5 separate regions of the Homo sapiens genome follow, and regions 1, 2, 4 and 5 are each reported to be linked to region 3. Evidence: microRNA targets listed by miRTarBase, many of them from high-throughput screens and not tested one by one. Region 3 holds a microRNA gene; each other region holds the end of a gene's coding sequence.

Evidence for each region. Region 3 holds the annotated microRNA hsa-miR-4760-3p (AAAUUCAUGUUCAAUCUAAACC, at 2,346-2,367, opposite strand). A microRNA usually pairs through its seed, bases 2 to 8, with sites in the 3' UTR of a target mRNA and lowers its output. Matches are read on the target gene's strand: a 7mer-m8 pairs with bases 2 to 8, a 7mer-A1 pairs with bases 2 to 7 and ends in A, and an 8mer does both.
Region 1: the mRNA of ZNF146 is a reported target of hsa-miR-4760-3p. Seed matches in the 3' UTR shown: 7mer-A1 at 3,757-3,763.
Region 2: the mRNA of SERTAD3 is a reported target of hsa-miR-4760-3p. Seed matches in the 3' UTR shown: 7mer-A1 at 809-815.
Region 4: miRTarBase lists UBE2W as a target of hsa-miR-4760-3p. Seed matches in the 3' UTR shown: 8mer at 4,204-4,211, 7mer-A1 at 2,828-2,834, 7mer-m8 at 1,478-1,484 and 7mer-m8 at 788-794.
Region 5: the mRNA of DSPP is a reported target of hsa-miR-4760-3p. The part of its 3' UTR that is shown has no 7-base or 8-base seed match.

What each region holds. Positions count from the first base shown.
Region 1 is chr19:36,236,911-36,242,016 of GRCh38, reverse strand. ZNF146 (zinc finger protein 146) reads right to left here. Exons shown (of 4, transcript NM_007145.3): 4 at 3,249-5,106. The coding sequence ends at 4,698. It also overlaps a transcript of ZNF565 not described here. Among named protein-coding and RNA genes, the nearest start is that of ZNF146, 24 kb to the right of the region's middle. RefSeq lists a silencer at 933-1,133.
Region 2 is chr19:40,436,992-40,442,097 of GRCh38, reverse strand. It overlaps SERTAD3 (SERTA domain containing 3), which reads left to right. Exons shown (of 2, transcript NM_203344.3): 2 at 12-1,254. The coding sequence starts at 18. The coding sequence ends at 608. Among named protein-coding and RNA genes, the nearest start is that of SERTAD3, 4.8 kb to the left of the region's middle.
Region 3 is chr21:40,210,014-40,215,119 of GRCh38, forward strand. It overlaps MIR4760 (microRNA 4760), which reads right to left and starts at 2,418; the gene lies at 2,339-2,418. The region is part of intron 11 of DSCAM (DS cell adhesion molecule); the gene reads right to left.
Region 4 is chr8:73,789,345-73,794,429 of GRCh38, forward strand. It overlaps UBE2W (ubiquitin conjugating enzyme E2 W), which reads right to left. Exons shown (of 6, transcript NM_018299.6): 6 at 1-4,771. The coding sequence ends at 4,758. Among named protein-coding and RNA genes, the nearest start is that of STAU2, 45 kb to the left of the region's middle.
Region 5 is chr4:87,615,546-87,620,651 of GRCh38, reverse strand. DSPP (dentin sialophosphoprotein) reads right to left here. Exons shown (of 5, transcript NM_014208.3): 5 at 3,779-5,106. The coding sequence ends at 4,084. All of the region lies in intron 3 of DMP1-AS1 (DMP1 and DSPP antisense RNA 1), which reads left to right. Among named protein-coding and RNA genes, the nearest start is that of DSPP, 9.6 kb to the right of the region's middle.

The DNA of each region.
Region 1 (5,106 bases), not on the chromosome of region 3:
TGTTGTTCCTGCTTATACTTTGGTATTATATTTGGTATTATATTTACAAAATCGTTGCCAAATCTAAGGTCATGAAGATTTACTCCTATGTTCCTATGTTTTCCTCCAAGAGTTTATCTCTTATGTTTAGGTCTTTGGACACTTTTGAGTTAAGTTTTGTATACGGTGTGAAGCAAGAGTCCAAATTCATCTTTGTACCTCAATTGTCCCAGCTTTTTTTTTTTTTTTTTTTTTTGACACTCTTCTTGCCAGGCTGGAGTGCAGTGGCACAATCTCAGCTCACTGCAACCTCCACCTCCTGGGTTCAAGCGATTCTCCTAGCTCAGCCTCCCAAAGTACTGGGATGATAGGTGTCCACTACCACGCCCAGCTAATTTTTTGTATTTTTAGTAGACAGGGTTTCACCATGTTGGCCAGGCTGATCTTGAACTCCTGACCTCAGGTGATCCACCCGCCTCCGCTTCACAAAGTGCTGGGATTACAGGCGTGAGCCACTGCGCACGGCCCCAACACTTTTTTTTTTTTTTTTTTTAATACAGAGTCTTGCTCTTGTCACCCAGGCCGGAGTTCAACGGCACGATCTCGGCTCACTGCAACCTCTGCCTCCTGGGTTCAAGCGATTCTCCTGCCTTAACCTCCCAAGTAGCTGGGATTACTGGCCCCCGCTACCACATCTGGCTAATTTTTGTATTTTTAGTAGAGGCGGGGTTTTGCCATGCTGGCCAGGCTGGTCTCGAACTCCTGACCTTGTGATCCGCCCGCCTTGGCCTCCCAAAGTGCTGGGATTACAGGCGTGAGCCACTGCCCCCGACATCATTTTTTAAGGGAATTATTCTTTCCTCCATTAAATAAGTTTGGCATTCTAGTTGAAAATCAGTTGCCCACAGTGTATCAATTGATTTGTGTTGGTATAACAGAATACCTGAGTCTGGTTAACGTATAAGGAACAAGAACATATTGGTACACAGTTCTGGAGGCTGGGAAGTCCACAACTGAGAGACTGACATCTGGCAAGGGCCTTCTTGTTATGTCATCCCATGGAGGAAAGACAAGAGACAGCAAGTGGGGACAAAACTTGCCCTTTTATCATGACACCAATCCTACTCATGAAAGTGGAGACTTCATGGACATCTTTTTTTTTTTTTTTGAGATAGAGTCTCATTCTGTCTCCCAGGCTGGAGTGCAGTAGCACGATCCTGGCTCACTGCAAACCTCTGCCTCCTGGGTTGGAGCAATTCTCCTGCCTCAGCCTCCCAAGTAGCTGGGATTACAGGTGTGTGCCACTACACCCGGCTAATTTTTGTAATTTTAGTAGAGACGGGGTTTTGCCATGTTGGCCAGGCTGGTATTGAACTCGTGACCTCAGGTGATCCACCCGCCTCGGCCTCCCAGAGTGCTGAGATTACAGGTGTGAGCCACCACGACCAGCCCCTTCATGGCCATTTTAAGGGTCTCAACCTTTCATGCCATTACCATGGCAATTAAATTTCAACATTGAGTTTTGGGTGGGACATTCAACCCATAGCATTTGTGGACTCTCAATTCTCTTCCCACTGATCTGTCTCCATCCCTGTGTTTTTCCTCCTGGTTTTGTTTGTTTTCGACAGGGTCTCTGTCACCCAGGCTGCAATATAGTGGTGCAATCACGGCTGACTGCAGCCTCAAACTCCTGGGCTCAAGCAATCCTCCCAGCTCACCCTCCCAAGTGGCTGGGACTACAGATGTGTGGCACATGCCTAGCTAGAATCATCTCTAGATTAGTCATAATACCTAATACAATGTAAATGCTATCCAAATAGTTGTATATTAACATTTGTATTTTTAAAATTGTTGTATATTTTAAACACTTTCCATCCAGGGTTCGTTGATAAATGGATGCAGAGCCCATGGATACAGAGGGCCAACTGTATCATAAAGACAACACCTTTAAATGTGAAATATATGTGCAAACAGGGAAAACAGAGAAAAAGATGGGGTACATCATAATATAAAGGGCAGATTCATTTAGACATTTAAGTATCTAATTCCTCCAAAAAGGCTAAAAGATACAGTGATGCAGTGCCATTTAATGAGTTTTTTAAGGTTTCAAAATCAAGCTCAAATGCTGTATATTATTGACATTCACCATTATTCAAGAAAACCTTTAATAATATTCTTTATATTATAATGTGATCAAAGAATAAAAAAATTTTCATGAAGGGCTGGTTTACAAAATAGAACTCTGTCTAGGGTCTGAGCCATTTTTCTCATACCCGTCCCATTCTCTCTCTGTAACAGCAGTGGGAGGAGTGACAGAGCTCGCAGGTTAAGACAGACACGCAGGTGTTGGTATCTAATGCACTGAACTGTGGAAGTTATGGGAAGTTGTTTTCTCTTTTTAAAAATAAAATTAGCTGGGCATGGTGACTCATACCTGTAATGTAATGGCAGCACTTGAACAGGCCATGGAGAATCACTTCACCCCAGGAGTTTGGGACTAATCTGGGCAATATACGGAGACCCCATCGCTACAATTTTTTTTTTTTAATTGGCACAGCATAGTGGTGCGTGCCTGTAGTCCCAGCTACTTGGGAGGCTGAGGTCGGAGGACTGCTTGAGCCCAGTAAGCAGAGGAGATTGCAGTGAGCCAAGATCCTGCCATGGTATTCTGGCCTGGGCAACAGAGCAAGATGGGAAAAAAAAAAAAAAAGATATTATCAAAAATTTAATATTTAATGCACACGTTTCCCATGGAAATATGCAGGAGAGGAAAACTGACATTCCAAAATCAGCCTAACTGAAAAAGACCAATTATATGAAGCCTGTGCATGTATGAACAAAGAAAAAGTTAAAGTTTTCTAAGCTCATTCTGCAAAATGTTAGAAATACGAAGACAGAGATCATATAGTGCAGCGGTCCCCAACCTTTTTGGTACCAGGGACCTGTTTCATGGAAGACAATTTTTCCACGGACGGTTTGTGGGGGTAGAAGAATGGGGATGGGATGTTTTCAGGATGAAACTGTTCCACCTCAGATCATCAGGCGTTACATTCTCATAAGAAGCGCACAACCTGGATTCCTCACATGCACAGTTCCCAATAGGGTTCGCGCTCCTATGAGAACTAATGCCACCGCTGATCTGGCAGGAGGTGGAGCTCAGGTGGCAATGCTCGCTCACCCGCCACTCACCTCCTGCCATGCAGCTGGGGGGAGCTGGGGACCCCGATATAGTGTGTATGCCATGTTAAAATAATTAAAACAGATTTGGATTGTGCTGTCCTTTTAAATTTTAATAAAATAGATTAATTTCATATTACATAGAGAGCAAGTCCATCCATTCATCCGTGATAAAATTTTAGAAATATTTTCTATAAAATGTTTAGTATTTAATTGGAAATGAATCCAGTATAACATGACTTCCACAGATACAGCATTCCCATCCTCACTCCCATTCCTATTTTGAGAAATTTTAAAAATACAGAAAAGTACAAAAAATAAGACAAGATATCCCTATACCACAATCCAGAATCAATCAGTATCTTCTTATATTTACTTGAAGTCTTTTGAAAGAGAAGTGGATGTTTATATAAAAAGCTGAAGTCCCCTTTAACCAATACCCATCCCACCTCCCACACTCATTATTTTCCCTTCTCCACTCTTCACAGGTGACCACTATCAAGAGTTTGGTCTGTATCCTTCCAATCCGTTTCAAAAACATGTACATACATATATGCATCCATTACCAATAGATAGTACTGAGTTTTATGAGGAAACTTTTAATTCAAATTTACAAAAAAGTCATTGTACTATCTGTATCATTCTGCAACTTGATCCCCCCTCAACAATTCTGGGATCTTTCTGTTAATACATGTGGATTTCATTTGTTGCATTTTACAGATATATAGTATTACATAAGAATTTCCCATATTGTTCGTGATGGGCTTTCTCAGTTGTTTCTAATTTTTGGCTACTACAAATCAAGCCACAGTAAATATCCTAGTGCGTATTTCCTGAGCATTCATACTCATAAGTAGAACCGCTAAGTATTTCTCAAATTGTTCCAAGGAATGTTTCCCTATTCCCAAGGTCATATGCATTTTAGTACATAGCTTTTCCATATTTCTGTTTTTAATCTCTGGATTCACTTTTGTGTATAGTTCATGGTCTATTTTTCCCCCTTGGAGAACAAACTACCTCCACTTAAAAAAAATAGTTCCATTATTTCCTCATTTCCTGATGCCACTTGTATCATATTCCAAATTCTAATAAATGCATAGGTCTTTTTTTGAAATCTCTTCTGCTCTGCTCAATCAATACCACAGGAGTCTTAATATTAGTTGTAGATGACCATGTCATCTATTTTTGTCTGTTCCTTTCCAATATTTACAACTTAATTTTTCTTGTTACTGGCGAAGATCTCCAGATCTATGGTGGTAGCAATAAAAAACAGGCCTCCATTTTCTGTTCCCACTTTTAGTGAAAATGTGCCTAAACTTTCACCATTATCTCTGCTGCAGGTTTCTCTGTTGGACACAGGGTTTTAATCATATGCATGTCTTTCTCTTCAGTACAAATTTTCTGGTGTCCCTTAAGTTTTTAGTACTTGTTAAAGTTAACCTCATTCGTGGTGCTTTGCTTCAGAAGGATTATTTCTGGGGCATGATGAGGTGCAAATTTCTAATGAAAGCTTTCCCACTTTCAAGGCTTTCATGGGGTTTTTAGTGAGTATGAATTTTCTGGTGTCTAATGTGGTGTGACTTCTGGCTGAAAGCTTTCCCACATTCACTGCACTGATAAGGCTTCTTACCTGTGTGTATTCTCAAATGCAGAGCAAGGGTTGAGAACTGAGAGAAAGCTTTCCCACATTCATTACAACCATAGGGCTTCTCCCCTGTATGGCTTCTCACATGCACAGTGAGAGATGAGCTCTGAGAGAAGGCTTTTCCACAAACATTGCATTCGTAAGGTTTATCACCTGAATGAATCCTCACATGTACAATAAGTGATGTTCGCTGAGAGAAGGCTTTTCCACATTCGTTACATTCATAGGGTTTCTCTCCAGTGTGAATGTTCTGATGTTTTATGAGGTACTTCTTCTGGCCAAAGGCTGTTCCACATTCACTACAT
Region 2 (5,106 bases), not on the chromosome of region 3:
TCTCTCTACAGGGCATCATGGTGGGAGGCTTGAAGAGGAAACACTCTGATTTGGAAGAGGAGGAGGAGAGGTGGGAGTGGAGTCCAGCAGGCCTTCAGAGCTACCAGCAAGCCCTGCTCCGCATCTCCCTAGACAAAGTCCAGCGCAGCCTGGGCCCCCGAGCACCCAGCCTCCGCAGGCATGTCCTCATCCATAACACCCTCCAACAGCTGCAGGCTGCACTTCGCCTGGCTCCCGCCCCTGCCCTGCCCCCCGAGCCCCTCTTCCTGGGCGAGGAGGATTTCTCCCTGTCAGCCACCATTGGCTCTATCCTCAGGGAGCTGGACACCTCCATGGATGGGACTGAGCCCCCTCAGAATCCAGTGACTCCCCTTGGCCTCCAGAATGAAGTGCCACCCCAGCCTGATCCAGTCTTCTTAGAAGCTCTGAGCTCCCGGTACTTGGGGGACTCTGGCCTGGATGACTTCTTTCTGGACATTGACACATCTGCGGTAGAAAAGGAGCCTGCACGGGCCCCACCAGAGCCTCCTCACAACCTCTTCTGTGCCCCAGGTTCTTGGGAGTGGAATGAACTGGATCACATCATGGAAATCATTCTGGGGTCCTAAAACTGTGATAGAGGGGATCGATCCTTCCTCATGTCATCTTCGGTGGCCTGGATCCCTGAATGCAACTCTGGGTGTGTGTTTTTGTGGGGGCTCGAAGCAGTGACTATGGCCTCCTTTGTTCCCATTTCAGGGTTCCACAAACTGTCTTGCATGTGTGTGTGTGTCTGGTTACCCCGACCTTCTGTGAAGGTGGGTCTTCCTGAATTAATTTATCTATTCCAAATGCCTTAACGAGACTCTGTTTCTGGGAGTCTGATTTTCCACTTACACATTTCTTCCACCTTTCCTGCTAGTTCCCACTCCCCTGTGACCACTGGGGCCTCAGGGAAGATAAAGAAAGCTGGGCCTGTCGAAGGATGACAGGGATGTGCTGCCAGGTTGCTATAGAAACCCAGGCTCTGCCTCTTGCACCTTGAGGGGGTGGGAGGGGCTGGTGTCCTCCCTCCAGGCTGAACCCCACTTCCTCGGCAGGACCCCAGTCTCAGCAGCCTCCTGATTTCATAACCAGGCCGGACCACGTGCAATAGGGTGGAAACCAAACTGCTCCATGCCGGGTTATTTAAAAGAAAGGCAGAGTTTGTGGTGGCTTTTTTTTTTTTTTTTGGATTGTTTGTAATTTTTTTAAATAAAAGTATTTTGGAAGGAGGGATGTTGTCTAATGTTTCTAAACTTCACTGGGTCAGTGGGAGGGACCTGGTAAGTTCCTAAACATCAGCACCACTTCCGTGCCATAGCTGGGGTAGGTGTATCATTGTACATGACATTTATTGAGTGCTTGTTGGCTGAGTGCTCTAGCTCCCACTTGGAATCCTAGCACTTTGGGAGGATCTGCTTGAGGCCAGCCTGGGAAATGTGGCGAAACACTGCCTCTACAAAAAATACAAAAAGGAGCTAGGCATGGCGGCCTGTAGTCCCAGTTACTGGGGAGGCTGAGTTGGGAGGATCACCTGAGCCTGGGAGGTTGAGGCTGCAGTAAGCCATGGTCACACCACTGCACTCCAGCCTCAGAAAAAAATTAGTGCTTGTTAAGAGCACTGTTCTAGCCACTTTATTTGAATTAAGTCTGTTAATCCTCATATAGAAGTAAGTACTGTTACCACTTTTTATACAGGAGGAACCAGAAGTTTAGAGAGGACAAGTCACTTAATTCAGAGCCACACAGCTAGGAAGAACAAGGACCAGGGAGCTAGGCTGAAATGGCCTCCAGAGCCTTGTCCTTCACTATTATAAATGTTGCTTCTTAGACTAACCAGCCACGTGGGTGGGCACAGGAGGGAGAAACTGAGTCACACGGAGTATGTGTCACTGAATGTGCTGCTGAGCCCAGAGGGGCAAGAAAATGCCCAAAGACCCCCAGTACTAAAAGACCTCTTTAGGAGAGTTGGCTAGGAAGCAGAGCCCAGATTAGATTTATAGTGCTAATGCTTTTTTTTTTTTTTTTTTTTTGAGACGGAGTCTCACTCTGTCACCCAGGCTGGAGTGCAATGACAGGATTTTGGCTCACTGCAACCTCCACTCCCGGGTTCAGGCAATTCTCCTGCCTCAGCCTCCCGAATAGCAGTGACTACAGGTGCTTGCCACCACGCCCAGCTAATTTTTGTATTTTTTTTAAAATAGAGACAGTTTCACCATGTTGGCCAGGCTTGTCTCCAACTCCTAACCTCAAGTGACCCGCCTGCCTCAGCCTCCCAAAGTGCTGGGATTACAGGCATGAGCCACTGTGCCTGACCTGTGCTGATGCTTTATTTCGGAGGTACGAGCCCAGGCTGCTGAGATACAGGAGAGGAGAAGGAGGTGAAGGAAGTGAAGGAAGAGGTAATGTGATACCTGTACAGGCTATGCCTTTACAATGGTCTTTGAAGAGATGAAGCAAGTGAGCTACACAGCATTAGGGACTTTTCTGGAAGGGCTGCGAGGAGGAACAACACCTGAGTATAGTCCATGGGTGGAGAAAGGATGGGGATTTTGCTTGTGGTTTCTGGGTCAAAGCCAGATTTCTCAACCTGAAGGGGTCATTGTCAGAAAGTGGAGGGATAACCTGAAGAGGTGGGTGCCAATCCAGAGAGAGGAATGAGGTGGCCCAGAGGATCTAAAGAAAGCAACCAGGTACAGGCCAGGCGCGGTGGCTCAGGCCTGTAATTCCAGTACTTAGGGAGGCCAAGGCGGGAGGATTGCCTGAAGTGAGGAGTTTGAGACCAGCCTGGCCAACATGGCGAAGCCCTGTCTCTACTAAAAATACAAAAAATTAGCTGGGCATGGTGGCAAACACCTGTGGTCCCAGCTACTCAGGAGGCTGAGGCAGGAGAATCACTTGAATCCAGGAGGCACAGGTTGCAGTGAGCTGAGATCATACCACTGCACTCCAGCCTGAGTGACAGAGCGAGATTCCATCTCAAAAAAAAAAAAAAAAAAGCAACCAGGTGTGATACTTGCTGTGGAATTGTAAAAAATAAAAATAAAAGGTAAGCAACCAGGTCTGCATCCCAATATGATGGCAATTGAATCATGTCTTCCTCCTTGAAACCTTCAGTGCCTTTTTTTTTTTTTTTTTCTTTTGAGACAGGGTCTCTGGCTCTGTCGCCCAGGCTGGAGTGCAGTGGTACAATCACAGCTTACTGCAACCTCCACCTCATGGACTCAAGCAATTCTCCCACCTCAGCCTCAGCCTCCCAAGTAGCTGGGACTACAGGCACGTGGACCACACCTGACTAATTTTTGTATTTTTTGTAGAGATGGGGTTGTGCCATGTAGCCCAGGCTGGTCTTGAACTCCTGGAATCAAGCGATCCTCACATCTCAGCCTCCCAAAGTGCTGGGATTACAGGCATGAGCCACCACGCCCAGCCTCCAGTGACTTCTTGACACACTCAATAAAGCGCCAGCTCCACCAAGACCTGCAAGGACTGACTTATTCTCACTTCGGACAACTTTCTCAGTTCCATCTCCCACTCTCTCCATCACTCAACTGGGCTCCCTTGACCCCAGCTCCTTCTCACCCCAGGGCCTTTGCCCTAACTGTTAAATTTTCCCAGTGGACATTTTCCCCAATAGCTTCACCAATCCCAATATCCCCTTCTCAGGGAGGTCTTCCTTGCCCTTCCTAGCTCAACACATCCAGGTGGGTCACCACCCCACCACAACTTGTTTGATTTTCTTTCTTTCTTTTTTTTTGAGATGGAGTCTTGCTCTGTCTCCTAGAATGGAGTGTAGTGGCATGATCTTGGCTCACTGCAGCCTCTACCTCCCAGTTCCAGCAATTCTTCTACCTTAGCCTTCCGAGTAGCTGGGATTACAGGCACATGCCACCACACCTGGCTAATTTTTTTTTTTTTTTTTTGACACGGAGTTTTACTCTTGTTGCCCAGGCTGGAGTGCAATGACGCGATCTTGGCTCACCACAACCTCCGCCTCCTGGGTTCAAGTGATTCTCCTGCCTCAGCCTCTCGAACAGCTGGGATTACAGGCATGCGCCACCACACCCAGCTGATTTTGTATTTTCAGTAGAGACAACGTTTCTCCATATTGGTCAGGCTGGTCTTGAACTCCTGACCTCAGGTGATCCGCCCGCCTCGGCCTCCCAAAGTGCTGGGATTACAGGCATGAGCCACTGCACCTGGACTGATTTTGTTTTAGTAGCATCTACCCAATCTCGAGTTACTTATTTCCCATCTATAGGTAGCCTCCTACTCTCCTGGGAACTCTGAGGGTTGTGTTGGTCTGTGCCTAGAACTATGCTTGGCACAACTGCACTCTCCAAAATTATTTGTTGTTGAAGGGTCAGGCACGGTAGCTCACGCCTATAATCCCAGCACTTTGGGAGGCCAAGGCGGTCGGATCACCTGAGGCTAGGAGTTCGAAACCAGCCTGACCACCATGGAAAAACCCTGTCTCTACTAAAAATACAAAATTAGCCAGGCGTAGTGGCACATGGCTATAATCCCAGCTACTCAGGAGGCTGAGGCAGGAGAATCACTTGAACCCAGGAGGCGGAGGTTGTGGTGAGCTGAGATCGTGCCATTGCACTCCAGCCTGGGCAACAAGAGCGAAACTCCATCTCAAAAAAAAAAAAAATTATTTGTTGTTGAAAAACTTGGCCAGGTGCAGTGGTTCACGCCTGTAATCCCAGCATTTTGGGAGGCTGAGGCAGGAAGATCGCTTGTGTCCAGTTCAAGACCAGCCTGGGCAACACAGGGAGACCCCATCTCTACAAAAAACTAAAATAAAATTAGCTGGGCTGATGGCATGCCCTTGTAGTCCCACCTACTCAGGAGGCTGAGGTGGGAGGATCGCTCGAGCTCAGGAAATGGAGGCTGTGAGCAGAGATAACACCACTGCACTCCAGCACTCCATCTGGAACAGAGCAACAGAGGGAGGTCCTGTCTCAAAAAAAAAAAAAAAAAAAAAAAAAGGCCGGGTGCGGTGGCTCACACCTGTAATTCCAGCACTTTGGGAGGCCGAGGCGGGCAGATCACGAGGTCAGGAGATTGAGACCATCCTGG
Region 3 (5,106 bases):
TCCAGTTACCCACTAACTCCTTCTTTACCCAGACATTCCACCCCAGCACTCAAACATACCTTGTATGTTTCTCCACCTCCCCCATTCCCTATTTTGAGGTCTGAGAACATGGTTTTCCTTTTCCAGGTATGACTGGCTGGCACTGTTTTGCCATTCTGAAAATTACCTCCAGTTCTTCAAGTTGGATTTCATTCCACCTTCCAGGTTAAACTCACGTCCTACCTCCTCTATGGAGCCCTCCCTGACCTCACCCCTACAAGGGGCTCTCCCTTCTCCAAACTCCCACAACTTTTTAATGTATATATTCACATTTATTGCACATATATATCTTTTGGCATTTACTTTTACAAAGCTAAAGTTTTGCAATACAGACTCCTAGGAAGTTGCAAAAATAGTAGAGTCCTGTGTGTCCTTTAGCTTCTGGCCATGTTGTGAATTTCCATAGCTGTGGTGCAATATCAGAGCCAGGAAACCCACATGGGAACATTCCCAGTTAACATTATCCAGTAGACTAGATGCCTTCATCTTTTATTCATTTATTTGTTCTTTAAGATGGATTCTCGCTCTGTCACCCAGGCTAGAGTGCAGTGGCACGATCTTGGCTCACTGCAACCTCTGCCTCCCAAGTTCAAATGATTCTCCTGCCTCAGCCTCCCCAGTAGCTGGGATTACAGGCATGTGCCACCATGCTTGGCTAATTTTTGTATTTTTAGTGGAGATAGGGTTCCACCATGTTGGCCAGGCTGGTCTCGAACTCCTGACCTCAGGTGGTCCATCCTCCTCAGCCTCTCAAAGTGCTGGGTTTACAGGCATGAGCCACTGCACCTGGCCACCTTCATTATTTTTAACCCACATTCATTTGTGTGTATGTGCTCGTGTAGCTCTGTAGGTGTATACTTCCGTTTAACTTTATCCCATTACAGGTCCATGTACCCACCACCACCATCAAATGAGGAACTATTCCACACCACAGAAGAATTCCTTATTCCTATCTGTCTGTGTTTGCACCTGGCCCCATCCTACCCATTGTACCTGTCTACTAGTATCCACTAAGGTATTCTCCACCTCTGCTGTTTTATCGTTTTGAGAATGCTTTATAAAGATAACTTTTTGAAGTTGGCTTTTTTTCACTAAGCGTAATGCCCTTCAGACTCATCTAGGTTATTGTGTGTGTCAACAGTTCATTTCTTTTGATTGCTGAATAGCAGCATTCCAAACTATGGATGGACCATAGATTTTTCAACCATTCACCTGTGAGAAACATTCATTTTGTTGTTGTTGTTGTTGCTGTTTGTCCAGAATTTAGCTACTATAAAGAAAGCTGCTATGGATATTTTTATATAACTTTTTGTGAACATAAATTCATATTTCTTTGGGATAAATGCTTAAGAGAACAATTGCTGGACCACATGGTAAGTGCATGTTTAGTTTTATGAGAAACTGCCAAAGAGTTTTCCAGAATGTCTGCACCATATTACATACCCACCAGCAATGCATGAGAGATCCAGTTTCTCCACATCTTTGCCAGCATGTGGCGTTATAATTTTTAAAAAATTTTTGTTGTTCTCATAAATGTGTAGCCAGGCATGCATTTTTGATGTGTAGACCTATCCACCTATCCATCAGGGCATGAGTCAAACATTTCCAAAGGCAGTGACTTGTCCTTGGTACAGCCCATGATGCATCAGACATGTAGATTCTCACCAAAATACCTATGGACCAACTGCCTTCTATCTAGAAGTGTTATCACACTTTCCACTGCATACTCTGCTAATAGGCACTTTTATCCACACCTCATTATTCTCCTCCATCATTGCCCTCTGGATTGTAAACTGCTTGAGGTTAAAGATGATGTCTTAATTGTGTAGACCCTAATTGTTGGCAAATAGTAGCTGCTACACAAATTTGTGTGTGTGTGGGTTTTGTTGTGGGAGACTGAAATTCTGAAGCTTTTTTTTTTTTGGTGTGGGGGGTGGGAGGGAGTCTTGCTCTGTTGCCCAGGCTGGAGTTCAGTGGCCCAATCTCTGCTCTCTGCAGCTTCCGCCTCCCAGGTTCAAGCATTTCTCCTGCCTCAGCCTCCCAAGTAGCTGGGATTATAGGCGTGCACCACCACGCCTGGCTAATTTTTTTATTTTTAGTAGAGACAGGGTTTCTCTGTGTTGGCCAGGCTGATCTCGAATTCCTGACCTCATGATCTGCCTGCCTCGGCCTCCCAAAGTGCTGGGATTATAGGCGTGAGCCACTGTGCCCAGTCAATTCTGCAACTTTTTTTATTGCAAAGAAGGAAGGGTGCTCAAGGCATAGAGAACAACACAGAGGCCTCACCTTGAGAGGCATAGCCATGGGGTTTAGATTGAACATGAATTTAGTTTTGATACTTAAGAATTCTAACTTCATGTTCAATCTAAACACCATGGCAGCCCTGGTCTCAGCCTTACCTCTGCAGTCTAGTTGTCGCTTGGACAGTACATCCTTTCCCAGTAACGAGATGACACACCCCTGTGCATATTTCAGGCTGCTTTCTATCTTGTTTTTCACCATTCTCACACCAAGAACACCAAGGTTTGTGAGGCCTCTGTTGTATATTGTGACAAAGAGCAATTTATATGGTTGGCAATAAAGCAGGTTTTTTAGGGGTTGATATTTTTCAGTTTAATTTTCATCCCTTTAGTGGGTTGAATTGTGGTCCTTCAAAAATATATCAACATCCCAACCCCTGGAATCTCAGAATATGACCTTACTTGGAAATACAGTCTTTGCAGAGTTAAAGAAAGTAAGAACCTCTAGATAAGGTCATCCTTCATTAGGGTGGGTCCTAAATCCACTGAAGAATGTCATATAAGAGACAGAAAAGGAGAAGGCACAGAGACACAAAAAAGAAGCCATGTGAAGGTGGAGGCAGAGACTGGAGTGAGGCAGCCACAGGCTCAGCAGTGTGAAGGGTTGAGGAAGCCTCTGGAGGCTGGGAGAGGTGAGGAACTGATGTGCCCTCAGAGCCTCCAGAAGGCACCAGCCCTGCTGACTTCTTGATTTCAGATGTCTGTGAGAGAAGAAACGTCTGTTGTTTTAAGCCACTCCATCGTGGTCATTTTGCATGGCAGACCTAAGAAACGGATGCCATCTTCAAGATCATTTGAACAGTATAGAAAAATGTATTTCACAAAACTTTTACTTATTATTTCACATTTTTAAACTTCATATTCCACGTTTTGCTTTATTTTGGGTATCAAGGCTTCTAGGGCATATTTTAATCACCCCAGAAGCATGGACATAATAAGACCTGGTTAAAGAGTGCACTGTGAGTGAGCCATGGGGTGAAGGATCCTGCTGCTGCCTCACAGCCTCCTGCCTCCCTGTGCACACATAGGTTTACTGTCAGGACTGTAATGAGGTTTGCATGAATAAACAGCTTTAGAAACAGCTTTCAAGTTTCCACCAAAATACCTGTTAGGAAGTCTTGTTTCCACCATAATTGCTAATTGCTTACCTACATGTGACCTGGGTATCCATAATGCAGACATGAGCAACACATGATTGTAGAAAATTCTAATTTAAATTATTACATTTTTATTTGGGTTCCACGCAGAAAACATCTTAGGCAGCCACTGCAGATTATTTCTAGAAGCGAAGGGAAACCTGGCTTGGAGATGGAGTGGGTGAGAAGCTAGAAGGGAATCTGTTAAGGATGCCAGGGATGGAGGGGTTCCTTCTCCATGAAAATAAGTGGAGTCAAGGAGGAATCCTTGAGGCAGCCTCTCCAAGACATGCAGGATCATGGGTTTTGACTAGGGGAATTTTACGATATTCTAGTGCAGGGATATAAGGAGGCAATGTCCAGGGAACAGGGCTCTTCCCCCAAAGACAGAACCCCTGGGTCCCTCATCCTTTCCGCATCTTCTGCTGTGTTTGGTATCCAAGGCCCTTGGCCCAGCCATTTGGAGTCCACTCAAATCCACACCTACATGGTGAGGAATAAAGGGAGACAAACTCATTGGAGTCATTGCCCCCATAGAGCTTCCTTTCCTAGACAGACGGAAACCCAGCAAACACACGAAGCGAGACATCAGGCAATGAGTGATACCTGGGTGTAGAGAACAAGGCATCCCTTCTATTCTTGCTCCTAAGGATTTCAGGTAGTTTGTTGCCCAGCCCACTTAGGCTATAAATGCTGCTTTCTCTCCAACTAGTCATAGCTATCAGCCAGCCTGGCCACTTTGGAAATAAGAATATTTAATGCACTCATGGACGTGGGAGCCTGTGTTCTAAGACATTCTTACTCAGTCATAGTTAGCTGAGACTCTAAAGAGTGGCATATGTAATCAAGATAAAATATGAAGTGTGCATCTGGTATATTTTGGAGCCTATAAAGAAAGATTCTGTGCTGATAATATTTACATTGGGTTTTTCTTGTTGTTTTGTTTTTCCAAGATGATGGAATATAGGCATTGTTAGCATTCCTTTTCCACTTGGAAAGATAAAATAGTGTGTAGAGATTCACACTGTGAACTTTTTTCCAAGAAGGAACACAGGACCGTAAACAGCTTTGAAAGAAGCTGTGAGTAGCAGCCTACACCGCTGTCTTTGGGAAACACCACTGAACATGTAAGGATTCTTATAGACTACAGGTAAAGGGTGGAAAAAGAGATTTCCAGCAAATGGAAGCCAAAAACAAGGAGTAGCGATTCTGATATCAAATAAAACGGACTTCAAAGCAACAACAGCAAAAAAAAAAAAAAAAACAAAACAAAAAACAACAAGAAAAAGACAAAGGTCACTATATAATGATAAAATGACCAATTAAACAAGAAGATGTAACAATTGTAAATATATATGCATCAAACTCCAGAGTTCCTAAGTTCTTGAAGCAATCAGTATATCAAAAAGACACCTGTACACATGTTTATCACAGCACAATTCACAACTGTAAAGATATGGAATCCTCACGCCTGTAATCCCAGCACTTTGGGAGGCCGAGGCGGGTGGATCACGAGGTCAGGAGATCGAGACCATCCTGGCTAACAAGGTGAAACCCCGTCTCTACTAAAAGTACAAAAAATTAGCCGGGCGCGGTGGCGGGCGCCTGTAGTCCCAGCTACTCGGGAGGCT
Region 4 (5,085 bases), not on the chromosome of region 3:
CTATCCATCCAGGCATGGTGGCACACACCTGTAGACTCAGCTACCCGGGAGGCAGGAGGATTGCTTGAGCCAAGGTGGTCAAGGCTGCAATGACTGTTCCACTGCACACTCCAGCCTGGGCAACAGAGGAAGACCGTCTCAAAAAACAAAAAACAACCCACACACAATTTATGTTGAGAAAGCAAGTCTCCCACAAATTATTTTTAAAAAATGATTCCAGGCTGGGTGTGGTGGGTCATGCCTGTAATCGCAGCACTTTGGGAGGCTGAGGTGGGCAGATCACTTGAAGTCAGGAGTTCAACACCAGCCTGGCCAACACGGTGAAACCTTGTCTCTACTAAAAATTAGTCAGGTGTGGCAGCACATGCCTGTAATCCCAGCTACTCAAGAGGCTGAGGCAGGAGAATCGCTTAGACCCAGGAGGTGGAGATTGAAATGAGCCAAGATCGTGCACTGCACTAAAGCCCGGGTGACAGAGCAAGACTCCGTCTCAAAAATAAATAAATAAATAAATAATAAAAATAATCATTCCACATCTCAAAATGACTTAGAAATTTAAATGGAAAAAATAAATAATTTGCTTGGACAATAATTTGGCTTTGGGAGAGTCCTCATCCGAAAATAACAAAATTTCCTTAATATTAGTACTAAAGAACTAATTACAGCTAACAGCTCATTTACCAAGTAGTCAATTATTCAACAAATTTAGCCATCTACTGACAAACTGAAATTAGTATCAGAAACTCCATGTATTTTATTTGTAGGAGAGCATTTTAAATTTTTCAAAAATTCATGGCATAATTTTAATAATCGTCCTTCTGTAGAATCCCTAACCTCAGAAAAAAAAAAGAGAGAATAAATTAGAAGTGAGAAAAGGAAACTGCGGAAGACTGACACATTGGACATCAGTGGGAAGAGGCAGAAAAATAGGAAGAAAAATAAAGGACAGATTTAAAACAATTTAAAAAGGACTACAAAGAGGATTGGGGCCAGTTGGTGCAGATTAAAAGACACCTTCTTCACAGACCTCAATCATGCACAGGCAGTAACGGCATTACTATAACACAGAACAGTATAGTAGCTGATTCTGATAATGAATCCTCAGAAAAGAAGAATATGGTTAAGCTTCAGTTCTTTTTGAAAAGCAATTTACATACACAATTACAAATAATTGTAAATTTTAAGCATTCAGCTAAGATATGTACAAAAAAATTAATGAAAGTGAGATCAAGAAATATAAGCAGCAGTAACCATAAAGGCTTAGAACTAGTGACACTGAATTCTTTATTTAAAAAAATTTTTGTAACACACAGTACCTCCTCTTCTCTTCTATTTTTAGGAAGAAGTTATAACAAGTTTTAAATATCTCAATTCTGAAAAACAATAGGCTTTTAAAAAATAAGACTTGATTACCAGAAACAAGTAATATGTAGTTACATAACCATTTTCATATCACTACTCATTTCCATTATTTACCAATTCATCTTTGATGCAACTTGGAAACAATTAAGCAGTCACTAGACACCTGTTTTAGAATCTGAAGAAATTATTATCCACCACAGGAATCTAATGATATATATATTTGCATATATTTAAAATTTCATGAGGGAAAAGGTAATAAACTATTCTAGTTATTTTATACCAAATATTGATATTCCTAGTCAAAACAACAAGGAATTAAGATCTTTCTCCAGGTGAACTGCTGACTATATAGAAGCTATTTCCAGCACTTTCTTCTGGGGATTAAAAATGATTTATTTCCCTGCTGGCTAAAATGATAAATTATATATTACAAGTAAGTCCTTCAGAAGTGAATATTAATTCCTTAAGAGAACCATAAAATGTATTTTTAAAAAATTCTCTTAAAAACTGAAAACAATCCTTCTCTCTAAACCTATGGCATTAATCCCTACTTGACCAAAGAAAAAAAAAAAAAAGAAGGGCATCATGTTCATGATCTAAGCATGCATAAATAAGGAAGCAAATGTATCACTGTCTTAATAGAATTTGGCAAACCAGAAGAATGGCCTAAAAATAAATAAATAAATAAATAAAAGAAGAAGAGTGTACCTTATCTTCTAAGTATGAAAGTCTAATTCTGTAGGCCTATGTCGCAAATAGTGCCCCACGAGGAAATGCAGGGAGGAGGCAAGTAGCATATTCCTATATACATTTTCTTGATATTCTGGTTGTCTTTCAACAATGCATTACAGAGAAATATTCTTTTTATTATTACAAGCCATTAATTGCTCTCTGTAGAGCAATGACTCAGATAAATGCCTTATGACTTTTAATAATGTAACTAACATATAAATTAAATCTAAGTGCAAGGAGTTTTCAATGATTCCTAAATTCAAGAGAGTGTTGTTAGCCTGATTATGAATTTTAAATGTCTGTGCTCCTATATTTTAGGATATTTCATCTTATTTTCTACTCTTTAAACCATAAGATGTACCGAAATTATTTCATTTTCCTCTACTTTCCTCTGTGTCATTTTAGTTTACTTTATGGTATTTATATGTAGAGAGAGAGGTATGTTAAAATATTGTCATAAAAAACTCAATTGAGGCTATATATGACCTATTACTCTATAGTATAGCATTGTTAATCTTTGACTCAGTATATTAATTCCTTTGGTGAATAAATGTCACCGGTCATTTCTTTATAAAAGCATTTTGGTAAGAGAACCAGCAATATGGAGACAGATTTCTCCCTAACCCCCAGAAGAAGATCAAGTCAAACAGTAGTGTAGAGCAGTTACGCAAAATATGAAAATACATAATTTACAGCTGCAATTTTCATATTAAAAGCAGTTTAAAACTATGAGTAATTCAAAGACTTTCTGTCTTGGTTAAACAGGCCAACTAATAAAACTGACAGAGATCATTGTGAGAATTTATCTAGTCAAGATAGAACAAAAACGGTTATAATTTTTTAAAAGTGGTAATTGTTAACTAGCAGTATATAAACAGTGTCCACAATTTGGTGGCTGGCCACGGTTTTAATTTTTTTTTTCAAGTTATTTCTATAGCAGACATATTTTTGAAGTCTACCCACCCCTGAGTTCAGCAATTATACTTTGAGTGTAAAATTATATGCCCTTAATTAACAACATGTACAAAGCTACAAAATGTCATCTATACAGATTAAAAACAATTTTAAAATATTATTTACCAATTATTGATTGAATGGTTTTACTGGGGTACGTATTTCAAACCTTTCAGCCAACTGGCTTTCAGTTTTAAGCCCAAATTGATTCATATATTCACTGCAGGATATTTCAAAAAGAGTGCAACAATAAGGCATTAGTAAAAATAACATTGTAGTAGAAACAGATTTTGCATATGTGAAAAGGTAATTTATAAAATACATTAATCACTTTTTAAAAAGAACTTAGTTGTAGTATCATTAACTCACATGGTACTGAGAACTGGACCTTTCAACAATTTTTTTTTTCTATAGAAAGTTTCATCTAGCTGTAAGCAAAGTCTTTTCAACAACAACAAAACAAAACCCTCCAGGAAAAACTATATGGCTGTGTGAGACAAATAAGCAACCATTTGATAGTGACTTTTGCCTAAATTTTAAAATAAAAATGTCCACACTCTTTTGTTAAAACATTAAGCCTCTGTCAAAAATGTATTTCTTATTTTAGGGTACAGGATTAAAGGACAAGATGATACTCACAAGTAAAGAAAATTTACAAGAAAAAACTTAACAAAAGTTTCAATAAAAGTATTGTAACATTCAAACTTGACTTATAACAAAAGAAACAAGATTGCAAACAAAAATGTTTACGGGGTTTCCAAACATAAATAAATGAAATAGTGTTTAGGCAGTAGGGCTCATGCTGATGGCTAGCAGGAAGTTAACAGAGTGTAACTTACTTGGAAAAAATCTTTAATGTACAAATAACAAGCCCAAATTATGGACTGCAGCAATTTAATCATCACTGCCATTTTTCTTACTTCCAAAATAAAGCCTTGATTAAACCATTCATACCCTATATTACTCATACCTTTACTTCAGAGATTGAGGAACTATATACAACAAATTAATTTATTTTCACCATAGGGATAACATACTGTACCTCTCTGCCAATGTTACTTGAAAATCTTCCATGTCAAAACAACTTGACAGTAGATATAAACAATTCAATAAATATGCAATGATCTTTCATTACAGTCCTTTAAAGACGCATGTTAATTCATGCTGTTAACCTTAGGATCACAGTGCATAGAATCCAAATATAAACAGTTGGGGTGACTTTTAAAGTAATGTTGGATCCCTCACTTTATTTATATTCCCACTATAACCAGTAAGTTCATTTCATAGGCCCTATCATGCATTAATCATTGAATGGCAGGAGTTAATGAAAACTTTTCCTGTTACAACGCCCATTGCCGGCAATGAACGTACCAAAACCGCCAAGGAAGTCATTGTTATTGCACAATACATGAGGACCTGGAGCTTTTCCAAAAGCTTAAAAAAATAAAAATAAAAAATGGAATTATATTTGACATTTCCTGACACCTGCATTAATACTGTATGACTAATAAAAGCATGTCAGTTGCCTGGACTGAACCAGCGATCAACATGCGCCCAGAATGCACACGAGTAAAAATGCAGTAAAAGGAAGTAGTCTTCATTGCCTATAGGTCACTTCCAGTCAAAGGTTAAAGTTCAAAGACTGAATGATCAAAGTGCTCATTTTCTCAGTAGGACTATCTTCTGCTAGGAGGATGATAACAGTGGCATCAACAAGTATCATCTTTAAGAAAAGGAGAAAAAAGATAATTAAAAAGTCAAGCATGTATAAGTAAATTCTACAAGTCTGTTTAATGTAGAAATAATTTCAATTAGCAAGAAGTACATAGTTTACATGTCTGATCTGCCTCCCCCAAACCTGTGAATACAAAGTGCAATATATGTTCAATTATACAGTGACAAATTTTTATTCTTTCAGAGAAATAGTTCACATAAACCTTAAAATGATATGTTATTAGCACATTCTATTTAAAATAATAAACTGACATGACATGTTAGTACATAGTCAGGATGTATCAATCTTAAGAGAATTATTTT
Region 5 (5,106 bases), not on the chromosome of region 3:
AGAACACAATGATATTTTCATCTATGACTAAACTATTCTATTCTGTTCCTGCTCCTTTTAGGGAGAGGAAAATTGTTCCTGGTTATTTTGGTCTAAAGTTTTTCAAAACTTCCATTACAAATCATAAAGCAAGTTTGACTTCTGGGAAATTACACTTCAGTTAATAATTTTAAATGTATTTGTATGGTGAAGTATAACTTTATAAATGTTATCTTTTTATGTAAAAAATATATTTTTTAAACAACAACAACAAAACCTGTTACCACATTTCCTGATTTGTGGTATGACCGACACAGAGAGAATTCTCCGGTCGATGGGGAGGACAAGACCACCTCTGAGAGTAAGTTTTCAGATCTTGTCTTCAGTCATCTGTGGAGTAATCCATGCAGCCAGAAAGAAATCTTGAATTTCTAACAAGTCCACCAGCACCATCCTGATAGCCTCTTGTTCAAGAGTGACAATGTTTCCTTGGCTCTTTTTACCGTGGTACAGATAAATCTAGAAACGCATTCCACTGCCACTCTTCCCTGTCCGTCTACACATACATCCTTCTTTCTTTCTTTCTTTTTTCTTTAAAATCTCTGCTTCAAAGTGGGAAAGAAACTTAGAGGTTTCTAGGGAAAAAGTGAATGTGAAAAAGTGAATATAAAATGATTACTAGCAGTAATTATTTTCTAAACCAATGGCTTTCAAACTTTTTAAAACTACAATCAACAATAAGAAAGGCATTTTCCATCAGGTCCTACTACATGTACACTTGGACATATTTGTGTGTGTACATATATAGATAGATATGATCCAGGTTCACAAAACAGTACAGATGGTACATTATGATTTTTCTTTTTTATTCTTTTGTTTTATAAAATATTTATCATTAGTCACTAAATTGATATGATCTACTAAATGAGTGGCAACCTGCAGTTTAAAAAATACTGTTTTTGTGGGCAATATTAGCAGACAGCCTATTAATCTTTATTCCAGAAAATAACTCAAAATAAGCTTTGTTTCCTAATACCAGACTTCTTGTGTTCAAAGGATCTACTTTTGCGATGTTCTTTTGTAGTGTGTCTGCTCCATTCTTTCCCTGAAAGTCCAGAAGTCAATGCAGATGTGATTATATAAGAAAATCAAGATCATATCTTTGTTACTTCTGGTATCAACCCTAGATTCTGAACATTCCCTGCCTCTAAATATTTCTTAAAGTAAATTCTTTATAAGAACTGGCTAGAAATTGATCCAGCTTAGGCTGTTACTGCAGGCAATATCTGCAGAGACTTTTATCAGACTGGAAATGGCTTAGAAAGTGATGGAACAATAAAGGCAGATCAAATACCTTATGGCACTTCATAAAACGAAATACAGCACACCCGTGAAGAAAAATGAAGTTGATCTGTGTGCTATGAACCAATATTTAAGGTATTTATTAAATTGAAAAAAATAAGATGAACGCATTGTGTATAGTAAACTTCCACATGTTTTTAAAAGGGGAATGTATGTACATAGAATATTTCTGAAACGCTCCACAAGATATTAGTAATGGGAATTGCTTATAGGCAATAGGAAAGAGATATAGAGGGCTGGGAGTGTAGAAGGGTCAAGATTTAAGATAATACTTCTGTATACCTCTTTATGGTGTTTGTTTTTTTTATTTTGTGCATATACATATATTACTTTTTTAATTAAAAATAGCTAATTTTTAAAAGAAATATTATACATCAGATTTTGTGATAGAGGGGGTATTTGCAAACTCTTTAGGATGAAGGGAATTTTCTTTGTGAGCAATTGTATAAAAGGATATTTACTTTAATAAATGGATATTTATTATAACACCGAGATTTATCTCCTTCATTTATGTATCTTGTGTAGTTTACAGAGTTCCATGTCCATTGCCTGACTTAGTGTTCATAGCAACCTTTTGAAATAGTTGTGACACATACTAGAAGCAATGCTTTACAAATTAAAACAAAACAAAACGAAAGAAAAAACCCTAAAATCTAAAGAAATTAAAAACCTAGAACATATTATATGGAAAGAAGTTTAGAGTCATGACATGACTGTGATGTAGTACAAACCTGGACATTTTGCACTCTTAAGAGTTACCAAGAAGTTTATGAATAGTATTTTTAAAGTCTTCAACAATACTCCTCACAATGTTGATCTCTTACCTAAGGACACTTGCATAGAGGAGGAAGAAGGCAGAAAAATAAACCTCCTGAAACTCTTCATAAAATATGCCTAATATTAGAAGGTAAATGGTCAACTAACAACTGGTTGAAAATTAACATTAAAGAAGTTGCATTCATAATCTCACTCTATAGATTTTCAGCTTTGCTTTAGAACAAAGCTAAAATAATTACCTCAATGGAAAAAGATGGAGATTTCAAAGCGTCACTACTAAATCTTGAAAAATACCCTTAAGGTTTATGGGTTAGGGTTATAGTATCTCCCAGTTTCCCTGGGACAACCCCAATTTATATCTCCTGTCTCCGTATAATTACTCATAACACCCCTTTCATTCTCCAAAGTGCCCTAATTTAGATGATAAACTATATCTCCACACTATTAAATATCAATCTCTATTCTCTATACACCTTTAAGATTGTCATTTTCTAGAAATTGGGCTTCATCTTGGGGCTAAGAATTACCTTCATTCATGCCAAAGCTGAGTGATATATACTCAGATCGTAACTGCATATATGACTCTCAAATAAGAAAGAGAAGTTTTCCAAACCATTACCCACCAGCAGCTTTAGCTTTATTAAAGAGATTAATAGTGGGAAGGGAGACTCAGGGTCTGGTTTAGAAGTTTTGGCGTGTTGAGGTTTTCAAGGGAAATGTGAACTAAGAATGACTTGGTGAGACTGATGTAAAGATAAATAATTGATACCACATAACACAGTTTTTTTGTTTGTTTGTTTTTTTGAGACGGACTCTCGTTCTGTCGCTAGGCTAGAGTGCAGTGGCACGATCTCAGCTTACTGCAACTTCCGCTCCTGGGTTCAAGCGATTCTCCTGCCTCAGCCTCCCAAGTAGCTGGGACTAGAGACGCGCGCCACCACTCCCAGCTGATATTTGTATTTTTAGTAGAGACGGGGTTTCACCATGTTGGCCAAGATGGTCTCGATCTCTTGACCTCGTGATCCGCCCACCTCGACCTGCCAAAGTGTTGGGATACAGGCGTGAGCCACCGCGCTTCTAAGTGATGCTCCTCCAGAGTCATTCATGTGTCATTTACTGGTTAACATTTGGAGAGTGGCTCCTGGGAGTAAGACACTGTTCTAAGCACTGCATCAGCTTTGTCAATAGTTTTAGGGACTTTGTACTAAATTTCCAGTGGTTTGTTGAGATGTATTTTTTTACATCAGATTTTAACATCAGATGCTATACATCAGATTACAGATCAGATTTTATACATCAACCTGTCTCTGAGCTCTTTCTGACTAGCACTCTTTAGAATTTCTGTGACTTATAACTACTCTATTTGATCATTAGAAAGATTATTCCCATAGCCCAGGTAGGTTGAATAGTAGCTGCAATTTTTTTTCATGTAACAAATAAATGTATTTCTTCCATAGAACAAGCAACTGAATCCAAAGCCAAGTTGGCTATCACAGTACAGCATCTTTTACTCAGCGGTAAGCAGACCACCTCTCCAGAATATATAACTATGGAGACTTAAGGCAATGCCACAGGTTGCTTTTAAGATGTGTCTGCCTGCTACATTCTCTGCAGCACATGGCACTTAAATTGAAGTTATCATGTAGTGATTACTTGAGGTTTCTGTGTGAAGTATTAAAGAATATTTTAATTGTTCTTTTATGTTTAGATTTACACTTTTAACAAAATATTTTCAGAACATGAATATTAACAGGCATGTACCAAAGGTCATGCATTCAGAGTCTGTCTCTGCAGGAGTTAGGTCTTGGTTCTGAATCCAACTGTTTGATTTGATTCCCCCAGTTGTTTTTGTTTACATACGTCTTATGTTTATTTCTCCCCTTTCTTTACTTTCTTGGAAATCTTTTTTTCCTATCCCATTACCAAACTTTTCACAAAAGGAATCTTACGGGTTTTTCTTTTGTTCTAATCATCACTGGTTGAGTGGTTACTGTCACTGCCTTCACTGTCACTGTCACTGTCACTTCCATTGTTGTTACCGTTACCAGACTTGCTCTGGCTGTCACTCTCATCATTGCTGTCAGATGTGCTGTCACTGCTATCACTGCTGTCGCTGCTGTCACTGCTGTTGCTGCTGTCACTGCTATCGCTGCTGTCACTGCTGTCGCTGCTTTCATTGCTGTCACTGCTGTCGCTGCTGTCACTGCTGTCGCTGCTGTCACTGCTGTCGCTGCTGTCACTGCTGTCACTGCTATCACTACTATCGCTGCTGTCGCTGCTATCGCTGCTGTCGCTGCTGTCACTGCTATCACTGCTGTCGCTGCTATCACTGCTATTGCTGCTGTCACTGCTATCGCTGCTGTCGCTGCTGTCGCTGCTATCGCTGCTGTCACTGCTGTCGCTGCTGTCACTGCTGTCGCTGCTTTCACTGCTGTCACTGCTGTCACTGCTGTTGCTGCTGTCACTGCTATCACTGCTGTCGCTGCTGTCACTGCTGTCACTGCTATTGCTGCTGTCACTGCTGTCACTGCTATCGCTGCTGTCACTGCTATCGCTGCTGTCGCTGCTGTCGCTGCTATCGCTGCTGTCACTGCTATTGCTGCTGTCACTGCTATCACTGCTTTCACTGCTATCACTGCTGTCGCTGCTGTCACTGCTGTCACTGCTATCACTGCTGTCGCTGCTGTCACTGCTGTCACTGCTATTGCTGCTGTCACTGCTGTCACTGCTATCGCTGCTGTCACTGCTATCGCTGCTGTCACTGCTATCGCTGCTGTCACTGCTGTTGCTGCTGTCACTGCTATTGCTGCTGTCACTACTATTACTGCTATCACTGCTGTCACTGCTGTCACTGCTATCACTGCTGTTGCTGCTATCACTGCTGTCACTGCTGTCACTGCTATCACTGCTGTCACTGCTATCGCTGCTGTTGCTGCTGTCACTGCTGTCGCTGCTATTGCTATCACTGCTGTCACTGCTGTTGCTGCT